2 separate regions of the Homo sapiens genome follow, and region 2 is linked to region 1. The links come from fine-mapping of genetic effects on gene expression. A gene starts in region 1. The other region holds a variant in brackets. All regions are shown on one strand. Distances are between the middles of the regions.

Region 1 (5,372 bases):
CAACACACATCTGAGATTGCCACTCTCCTAATTCTAAATCCTTCAGTTGTTTTCCACTGCTTTCAAAATGCAATGCAATGGGCTGGGCGCAGAGGCTCACTCCTGTAATCCCAACACTTTGGGAGGAGGCCGAGGAGGGCAAATCACCTGAGGTCAGGAATTTGAGAGCAGCTTGGCCAAGATGGCGAAACCCTGTCTCTGCCAAAAACACAAAATTAGCCAGGCATGGTGGTTGGCTGTAATCCCTGCTACTTGGGAGGCTGAGGCAGGAGAATTGCTTGAACCTGGGAGTGGAGGCTGCAGTGAGACAAGATTGCGCCACTGCACTCCAGCCTGGGCAATAAAGCTAGATTCCATCTCAAAAAAAAAAAAAAAATGCAATGCAATGGTTTCGTGACCTGCCACAACGTGGCCCTGCCCAGCTCTTCTTACTTGCCATTGCTACTCATTTTCCCCTGCCCTCCCCACTCGACTGAACAGCTCTCAGTATCTCAAATTCATCATGCTCTCTTCTACTCCAGACTTTTGCTCATGTTGTTCCTTCATTTCCAACATTCCCACTTTTCCAACACTGACCTTCCCTTAGCTCATTTCCTTCCCTTAGCTGACCTTCCCTTAGCTCAACTGCTAAGGTCTTGCCTCCAGCTGCCACCTCTTTCACTTTCTTCAGGAAGCCTTTTTTTTTTTTTTTTTTTTTTTTTGAGACAGGGTCTCACTCTGTTGCCCAGGTTGGAGTGCAGTGACACGCTCACAGCTCATTGCAGCCTCAATCTCCCAGCTCTGCCAGTAAACAGATGGGCCTCTCTGGACCCCAGTTTCCAAAGGTTGAAGGTCAAGACAATAGCTCTCAATTCCCTACTTTTGTTAGGATTGTATGAAGGGTCCTTCCAGCACTGTCCCAGTATGGTGCTCGGCTAATGGAAAACCAATCTCTGTAACTTGGACTAGTTTTATTCCCACCTTATCTGGGAATTATAAGGGTATAAGGTTGTAAAAATATAAAGTTAACAATCTGACCCTCACTTGGGAATCATAAAATTACAATCTGATATCCACTTTACTTGGAACTTATGGTCAGCCCTCTGTATCCTCAATCAACCTGGGACTGAAAGTATTTGAAAAAATTACAATAACAAAAAATAATAAAAAATCATAGAAATAAAAAAGTACAGTGTAATATCTATTTACATAGCATTTACATTGTATTAGGTATTATAAGTACAGCAGGTCCTGGAATAACATCATTTCATCATTTTGCTCAGTGGTTTTCTTATAATGATGAGAAAAAAATAGATTTCTGGCTGGGTCCACTGTCACGTTTTATCCATGTCTGTGTGGATTTTCTCTGTCTTCTGGTGTCCTGTCACATCCCAAAGCCGTGCAGTGCACTTTAGGTAAATTGGTGCATCTACACGATCCGAGTGTGAGTGTGGGTGTGTGTGAGCACACCCTGTGAGGTGCCCTGAGTTGGAATAAGCCGGTAAAAATGATCTCACTTTTATTAATCTTTATTTTTCTCTAAGCGAGAGGGATAGGGGGTGTTTAAAAAAAACTTTTTCTTTGAGACAGAGCTGTGCTCTGTCGCCCAGGCTAGAGTACAGTGACATGATCTCGGCTCACTGCAACCTCTGGCTCCTGGGTTCAAGCGATTCTCCTGCCTCAGCCTCCCGAGTAGCTGAGAATACAGGCACGCGCCACCACACCCAGCCAATTTTCTGTATTTTTAGTAGAGATGGGGTTTCGCCATGTTGGCCAAGCTGGTCTTGAACTTCTGGCCTCACGTGATCTGCCCACCTCAGCCTCCCAAAGTGTTGGGATTATAGGCGTGAGCTAAAAATCTTCCTTAAATATATGCATGGCTCACACTTATTTCAATGTTTAATATTAGAAGTGTTTTGGTCTTTATTTCGAAGTTTAGGGGCGATTTTGTGACCACAGATATGTTGTAGGAACTTCACTCATATCAATTAGCCTGTGGTCAAACTGTTTTCCTTACAGTCATTTGGCTTAAAGTTTCAGTTTCCAAGAACCCCTCCACGATGTTAGGTGAGGACTTAGGGAATGTGGAGATGACCTAAAGTTTATGATGGGAAGATGTGTGTAGGTGATATGCAAACACTTTTTTTTTTTTTTTTTTTTACCAAGGACTTGAGCATTTGTGGACGTGGGTCCCCTGGAGGGGCCCTGGAACCAATCAGGACTATAAAATCCTTTTAAGGTTTTAAGAAGAGCATTGTTATCTCTGTGGTACTGACGAAGACCCCGCAAGCTCACCGAGATTAAGTGCCCCTGCCTAAGGTTACAAAGCCTCTTATCCTCAGGCCACCTCCAGTACAGCAAATCCAAGCCCTCCCGTCTAAACTTGGCGCCCTGAGTACCAAGGGTCACCTCGGCCTTTCAGGCTGAAGGGAGGGAGGCTGAGTCTCAGGGCAGAGTCTGAGTCCCACTCCGCACCCCACCCTCTGTCTGGTACAGCTTACCAAACCAAAGTGCCCAAAGCCGTGACATCCCGGCCGGCGGCTCGCAGGCCCCCGCCCTCCGCACGTCACGGCCGCCGGGTGCAGTGCCCCCTAGGGGCCCCTGGGACGAGGAGGAAGCGCCAGGTCCTTCCCGCCGCCGCCGCCGCCGCCGCCGCCTGCTCCCCTGGCACGCGCCCCGCCGCCCTCGGCAGCCGCAGCTCCGTGTCCCCTGAGAACCAGCCGTCCCGCGCCATGGGCACGCGTCTGCCGCTCGTCCTGCGCCAGCTCCGCCGCCCGCCCCAGCCCCCGGGCCCTCCGCGCCGCCTCCGTGTGCCCTGTCGCGCTAGCAGCGGCGGCGGCGGAGGCGGCGGCGGTGGCCGGGAGGGCCTGCTTGGACAGCGGCGGCCGCAGGATGGCCAGGCCCGGAGCAGCTGCAGCCCCGGCGGCCGAACGCCCGCGGCGCGGGACTCCATCGTCAGGTGAGTGTCGGGTCTGGCCCTGGCCCAGGTCTCCAGCGGCTGTGGCCCCGACCCAGGGGCGGAGCGCCCGGGACCGCCGTGGGGAGCGGGGCGCGGGGCTGCGAGTGTTTGGTGCCAACTCATTAGGGGGGCCGGGCGGTGTGTCGGGAAACGCGGGCTTGGGCACTGCGGCCGGGAGCGCTGGCGGAGAACGGGGGATCCAGTACCCGACCGGGCCCGCAGCGCAGGTGGGCGTGGGCATCTCCAATGGGCGCCTAGCGGCATGGACCGCACGCCCGGCTCCACGTGCGCAGCCGGCCGCCGGCTCTGATGCAATCGCGCCGGGCGCGACCCAGACGGTAAAGGGGCGGTGCGGCTGGGGCGGAAACCAGGGGAGGGGGCGAGGAGCAGGAGGAGGGCGGGGCTGCGGCTCGGCGCGCCGGCTGGCCCGGGGTTCGGGAAGGGCAAGCGGAGCTCGGGAGAGGCGGGCTCGGGCCCAGCGCCGCCCGCGCGAAGCTCCCTGGTGTTGTGCGCCCTTCCCCGCGCGCGGCCCCTCCTGCTGGGCTGGGGTCTGTGGCTGACGTCCGCTTTTCCCGGAACGGCAAAGGTGGAGCCGGGCCCCCGGGACAGCCGCCGGGGGGAATCCGAGAGGTCTCAGCGCTGGTTTCCAGCTTCGCCGCGCAGCGCCCACGGAGTCCCCGCGCAGCTGGGTTTGCAGGGTTTTCTGCGGGCCCAGAGCGAACTGGGAGCCCCGGGCCCGGCCTTTCCCGTCCCGGTCCCCGCCCCTGGGCTCCAGCCTTCCCCGCCCTCGCCCAGAGGGGCGCACGGGTCTCGGGCCTTGCAGGGCGAGCCCTTCGGGACAACTTGGGGGTGGCAAGAAAGCCCCTTCCGCCTCCCTCGGAACTGGGATTAGGAACGAGTTCCAGGATGCGGTTTCCCCGGCCAGCGGACCACCTCCTCCATTCACATCCTCTTCCCTTTCCTTCTAGCCTTCTTTCTTAGTCATTGCCTGCTTGCCTTTCTCTCTGCCTTTCCTTCCTCCCTCTGCTCTCCCATTTTCCTCCCCACTCCCCTTCTCCCATCTCAGTAAAATACGTTTCCTAGGCTCTTTATTATGTGGCGGATGATTTTAAGGGGCCATTTATTTAGTTTTTCTTGTTCTCTGTCTTCTTTTTCTTTTAGAAATGGAGTCTCGCTTTGTTGCTCAGGCTGGAGTTCAGTGGTGCCATCTCGGCTCAATGCAGCCTCCGCCTCCTGGGCTCAAGCGATTCTCCCGCCTTAGCCTCCAGTGTAACTGGGACCACAGGTGTGCGCTACCATGCCCGGATTATTTTATTTTATTTTCATAGAGACAGAGCACCACTCTGTTACCAGGCTGGTCTGGAACTCCTGGGCGCAAGCCATCATCCCTGCCCCCAAAAGCGCTGGGATTAATTACACGTCAGGTCATTAGGTTTTAACCTGCACGTTGCTGAGACTCATCTTACCGGTTAGAGTCTGAAGCCAGGATAGGCGGCAAAAAAACTTCTCCCGTCATGCTGTTTTATTTTCTAGGTAAACTGATTATTACCTGAAACTTCCTTCTTTGCTCATTTCTTGTCTGTCTCACCCACCTGGAATATGAGCTTCATGAGACAGCCGTCTCTTCGGTGCTATATCCTAGGTCCTGGAGAGAGTGCCCAGCATGTAATAAGCACTTGTGAAATGGTTACAGAAGGAATGCTTCAAGATTTGGGGTCATCTGTGGGTTTTATTCATACATATTCTTTTTTTTTTTTTTTTTTTTTGAGACGGAGTCTTGCTCTGTCACTCAGGCTGGAGTGCAATGGCACGATCTTGGCTCCCTGCAACCTCTGCCTCCCAGGTTCAGGCGATTCCCCTGCCTCAGCCTCCCGAGTAGCTGGGATTACAGGAGCACGCCACCACGCCCGGCTAATTTTTGTATTTTGAGTAAAGACAGGATGTCTCACCATGTTGGCCAGGCTGGTCTTGAACTCCTGACCTCAGGTGATCCGACTGCCTTGGCCTCCCAAAGTGTTGGGATTACAGGCGTGACCCACCGCGCCTGGGCTATTCATGCATACTTTTAGGTTTAAAGCCATGACTGCCTTAGAGATGAGTAAAGAGGTTAGTAGGGGGCTTTAGGGCCTGCACTGGGTTCTCCAAACTCAATTCCTTCAGGAAAATGGGAGGAGTAACAGTACTTACCTCAAGGGGTTATGGAAACAATTATGTGAGAGGACACATGCAAAATACATAGCCCAGGACTGTCACATACAAGACAAGTCCCTCAACAAATGGTGGCTATTAATTTTTTTTTTTTTTTTTTGAGACGGAATCTCACTCTGTCGCACAGGTTGGAGTGCAGTGGCGGGATCTCGGCTCACTGCAACCTCCGCCTCCCGGGTTCAAGCGATTCCCCTGCCTCAGCCTCCTGAGTAGCTGGGATTACAGG
Region 2 (5,372 bases), 960 kb before region 1:
GGCCTAGCAGAACACCCGTCCACCATGCAAACCGGGTGGGGCCACCTGTCAACTGTCACGTGTGAGTGATTCTAGGACAGGGTAACTCGTCCAGAATTGGATCCAATTCAGTACTGGATTCACCATCAGTAGAAGGACCAAGACCAGACTCAAGTCCCAGCCACGAAATTCTAGAAAGGATTTAATGTAATTTTAGCAGTTGTTGGAGACCAGCATGTGATGGCATACATATGTTTTCCTTGATATGTAGGTGGGGGCCCCCACCTTTTTTCAGGGTTTAGGCTTCTGCAGGTCCTGGCATAGCTGTGACAGCGGCCCTACCTCATTTCTGGTGGGTGCTGGCTCCCTCTATTGCTTGGTTTCTGTGCAAACACTGCATTATCGTCCTGCCCTCTTGAGACCTGGAGCTCCTGCCCCCTGAGCTCGTGTTCGCACTGTGTGTCACTGAACCTCGCTGTTTTCTTCTTGCAACTCCATTCCCCTCTGCAACTGGAAGACCAGCACTTCTCCTGAGTCTTCCTTAAAAGACACCCTGCCCACTTCCTTACAAAGCCCCCACCAAAGTGACACCAGCTACTTGTGAATGTAGCCAACTTTACTGAAGATTTAGAGGTTATGTTATAAGGCTGTGAATAATTTAAAAAAAAAATCACCTATTTGCTCGACCTCTTTCTTATCTCTTCTTTGGACTAGAAATAAAATATCTATGATTTGACCACACTGTCATCTAGTACTCGACCCTGGTTCTAGGCCACCGTCCTCCTGGCCAGGGTGATTGCAGTGCTGCCCTACTTGGTTCTCCGTGCCTGTCCCCACCTCCCAAATGGCTACAGCGCAGCCAGAGTGATCTTCAGAACCTCATCACTCACGCCCCCCTCTGCTCCAATTCTCCAAAAGTGCCCTTTTTCTCTCAGTAAAACCAAAGTCACTACAGATGCCTAGAGAGCCCTGCACAGTCTGGCCAGCTGTCCATTATGCCCCCTCACTCGCTCAGTTCCGACCTCCACCCTCGGCCTCCTTGCTGGTCTTCAGAGCCCTGCAGATGTCCCCGTGCCTTGGGACTTTGCATTGCCCTCCCTTCAGCATGGACTGCCCTTCAGGCATCTGCCCGGCTCACTCCCACTCCTGCTCCCAGGTGGCACACCCTTCCACGCCTGGTTCTCCCTGCCCCTCGCATTTGGAACCCTTGTATTTCTTTCTTTCTTTCTTTTTTTAAAATTGTGGTATGATTCATGTAACGTGATTTTTCATCTTAACCACTGTTAAATGTAAAGGCCTCTATTTCATAATGGGAGACCTCTGCCTGCCCAGGCCATCCTGGACCTTCTTCACCTGAACTTGTTCCCCTAAAGCAATGACCACTTTAAAACATACCTTAGTAAGCCGCGCACAGTGGCTTACACCTGTAATCCCAGCATTTTGGGAGGTCAGGGAGGCTGGATCACCTGAGGTTGAGTTTGAGACCAGCCTGGCCAACATGTTGAAACCCTGTCTCTACTAAAAATAAGAGAATTAGCCGGGTGTGGTGGCCAGTGCCTGTAATCCCATCTACTCAGCTTATTGAGTCAGGAGAATCACTTGAAGCCAGGAGGCGGAGGTTGCAGTGAGCCGAGATCACGCCACTGCTTTGCAGCCTGGGCAACAGAATGAGACTCTATCCCTATAAACAAACAATCAAACAAACCTTATTAACTTTTAATTGTGGTTGCAACAAATTACTGCAAATTTAGTGCCTTAAAACAACATACATTCATTCTTTTACCATTCTGGAGCTCAGAAGTCTGAATAGTCTCACGGAGCTATCATCACTGTGCTGTCAGGGCTGTGTTCCTTTGGGAGGCTCTCGGGGAGAACCTGTCTCCTCCTTGCCTTTTCCAGCTGCTCAACTGCCCACGTCCATGGCTCAGGACCCCATTTCCTCATCTTCAAAGGCAGCTCCACCAGGCTGAGTCCTGGTTTACATGAGAACACTACCCCTCCATGGCTGGTTTTCCCAGGGCAGCTGATTAGCCACCTCAGCTCCATCCACAGCTTTCACCGCCCTTTCCATGTACCCCAACACAGAGGTTCCAGGGACTGGATCTGCCATCCTGAGGATTGGAGAGGGAATTCTTCTGCCCAACACACATACCATATAATTTACATATCTATCCATTTAAAATTTCTATCTCTTACTAGAATGCCATTTCTGTGAAGACAAAAACCTCATACAAGGCACAGAAAACAGCTCCCCAGGGGTGAAGGGGCTCAGATGGGCCCCCTGGCTCAGGGAACAAGGAGAGGTGTCAGGGCAGCCTCCCTGGGTCTCCAGCCTTCACAGCCGGTGCCTCCCAGGCAGGTTCCAGCCACAGCAGCAGCAAAAGAGATGTGGTGGGCAGCATCAGGCATTGGCGAGATTCCTGACACAGTTCAGTCGAAAAGAAACTTCCTAAACTGAGCTCACCTCAAGGAAGCTGGAGATAAATGCCACCTTACCCAATGGGTACATGAAATACAAATACAAATCCTTTTCCAGGTTGTGCAGGTTACAACTGGCCCAATTCTATGCCTGGTCCCCTGCCCTGTCCTGCTGTGACTTGCCAGGGTGGGGTGCTCATTGGCCTCCAGGCTCCACTCACTTTTCTGACCGCACCCAGTTTCCACCTCCAAGTCACCCCCCAGACTGCTTCTCCTTTTGCTGT[T/TG]TTTTCTCAGCCCAGCAGAAATTCTAATATTCGCCAGGCTTGGCCCTGCTCAGGGCACCGGAGAAGGAGCCTCTGAGGAAAATCTTGGCACAAGGAGCAGCTCTCCCACCTGGATTTCCAGCACCCTCTGTTTTCTGGGAACTCCTGAATTTCTCTGGCCATTGGCACAGGGGCTCTGCCACGCAGTTCCCCTGGCGGCTGGCCCCTGACATCTGGCAAAGAGTTAGGAATGCAGGTGTTTCTGGCAAATATGTAGGGCCTATGAGATAAGAAAGTGGGGGAAGCAAGATCACGTAGGTTCTCTGTGAGAGAGGCCGCATGCCCAGCAGGACAGAACATCCCTGGCTGACAAGGGCCATCTTCCCCTGTCCTTATCTCTGCCTGGGCTCCAGCTCCGTCCTGCCTGACAGAGGCCGTGGAGCAGAGCACTGGGCTGCTGGTCAATGTCCTGGTCTTTAGATAGACCAGTCTCCGGATGGGGTCACAGTGGGAGAGCAGTGGGCCTGGGAGGTGCAGGGTTAGTGCAGGGCAGGGCTGCCTTGAATCTGCAGGTGCGGGGCCACCAGGCTGGACCTATCTGTATGCTCAGCACAGGAGGTTGCAGTATTGCCTGCCCTCAACCTCCTTTTCCTATTTCTGCTGCTAGAGGGCACTGGGGACTGGGGTCAGGCTGGGGGTCTTGCCATCCCCTCCTGATCTCCTCCACTCCCTGTCCACAGCTCCTGATTTCCCTGCCTGGGCTGCCCCCACCAGAAGTCTCCAGGCCTAAAATCCAGTAGGAACAGGCAGCCTAGCCTGTCCCCAGGGGTTTCTTTAGCACTTGCAGGAGTCAATAAGGCTTCAGGTAGGAAGGCCTGATGCCTTCCTCATCCACAGACGCCTAACAGGTGTTTCTGGAAATGTATCCTGTGGCAGCCAAAGAGGCTGGACTCCTCAGTGTGTTTCCAAACAGAGCCAAACACAGAGTTCATCGGTTGGAGGAGCCCAATCAGCTGCTCATTAGTGTGCCTTTGACAAGCCTTTGTACGGCGGGGAGGAAAAATGATTTTCATGAAAAAAACAAACAAACAGGAGTTTATTATCTATCTATCTATCTATCTATCTATCTATCTATCTATCTATCTATCTATCTATCTATCTATCGTCTCTTGTATATACACAGGAAACACCTGGAGAAAACAAGTAATCCTTAAAGTGCTGGCTTAGAGCTCCAGCATCTTCAACAGAAAACAATAAACGTCTAGAGAAGTGGCAGATCATGGGAAGGCCAATCTATGGCATCAGAGAAGCTTGTGGTGCCTCTGCTGCTGTCCCTAGGCCTGACAAGAGTCTGAAATTGTCTTTGGTGATCAACCTTTGTCCTTTCTGGTAGAGAAGGGAGGATACAATCAAAAGTGGCTCAATAATAACTGGAAAATAAATGGAAAAGAAAGATGTTCATTTCATCCAGGTTCTTGAATTCATTGACATACGGTTGTACATAGTATTCCCTTATAATCCTTTTTGTTTCTGTAAAGTTGGTAGGGATGTTTCTTCTTTCATTCCTGGTATTAGTCATTTGAGTTTTATCCCTCCACCATTTACCTAGTCATTCTAGGTTAAGGTTTGACAATTTGGTTGATCTTTTCAAAGAACCAACTTTTGGTTTTATTGAGTTTGCCAATGTTTTTCTATTCTTTATTTCATTTATTTACACTCCAATTTTTATTTCCTTCCATTTGTTATTTGGGGCTTAGGTCGCTTTGCTCTTTGAGTTTCTTAAAGTGAAATATCAAGTTATTAATTTGACATAATCCTTTCTTTGTCCTGTTCTTTCTCAGTATACTGGCATTTACAGCAGTAAGTTTTCCTTTAAGTGCTGCTTTATCTGCTTCTTATAAATCATAGTATGCTGTGTATTTGTTTCCATTCATCTCAAAGTATTTTCTAATTTTCCTTGTGAGTTTCCCTTTCGTTGATTGGTTCTTAGAATGTTTATAAAATTGTTTGTCTTAAAGATGATTCTGCCTGATATTATTAATAGCAATTTCAGTTGTCTTTGTTTACTATGGATGTGTTTTATCTTTTCCATATGTCTACTTTTAAACTACTTGTATCTTGGGATCTACATTGTATCTTTAGATCATTTTTTAAATGCATTCTGAGAATCTTTGCTTTTTCTTTTGAATGTTTATCACTTTGACATGTAAGGGAATTACTGCTAAGGTGGAACAGAATTTACGTCTGCCACCTTTTTCTTAGTTTTCCATATGCACTATGTCATTTTCTTCATCTTTTCCACCACTATTGCTTTGTTTTGTGTTAAACAGATATTTTCTACTGCATCATTTTACTTCCTTTATTGTCTCTTTTTCATTTTTTATTTAAAAAAGTTATTTTGTTAGTCATTTCAGGGGATTCCAATTAATATCTTAATTTACCACAACCTAGATCATATTAAAACCAACTTAATTTTAACAGGATGCAAAATCTCTGCTCCAATATTGCTCTGCTTCTTCCCCCATCTTTGTGGTATAAAAATGATATATACATAAATTATATGGCATGTGTTTTGCAAAGAATAATCACCTGCCACCCCCACCCACTCCCGCCAATCCCAGAGGATGCCGGTGTGAATCCCTGGAACCCCCCACTGGGTTATATGGAAAAGGGAGTGAAGGCTACAGATGGAGTTGAGGTTGCTCATCATCT

Evidence for each region. PIP is the estimated chance that this variant, and not a neighbour inherited with it, causes the effect. A credible set is the group of variants that fine-mapping cannot tell apart.
Region 2: its variant is the best candidate, but not a certain one, in a credible set for the expression of MTHFD1L in tibial nerve (GTEx, PIP 0.80).

Annotation. Positions count from the first base shown.
Region 1 is chr6:150,863,112-150,868,483 of GRCh38, forward strand. It overlaps MTHFD1L (methylenetetrahydrofolate dehydrogenase (NADP+ dependent) 1 like), which reads left to right and starts at 2,591. Exons shown (of 28, transcript NM_015440.5): 1 at 2,591-2,938. The coding sequence starts at 2,712. RefSeq lists silencers at 2,433-2,662, 2,723-3,132, 3,293-3,492, 3,613-3,762.
Region 2 is chr6:149,898,157-149,903,528 of GRCh38, forward strand. The region is part of intron 1 of RAET1E-AS1 (RAET1E antisense RNA 1); the gene reads left to right. Among named protein-coding and RNA genes, the nearest start is that of RAET1E, 2.7 kb to the left of the region's middle. RefSeq lists a silencer at 217-511. The variant T/TG (reference allele first, on the strand shown) is at 2,682.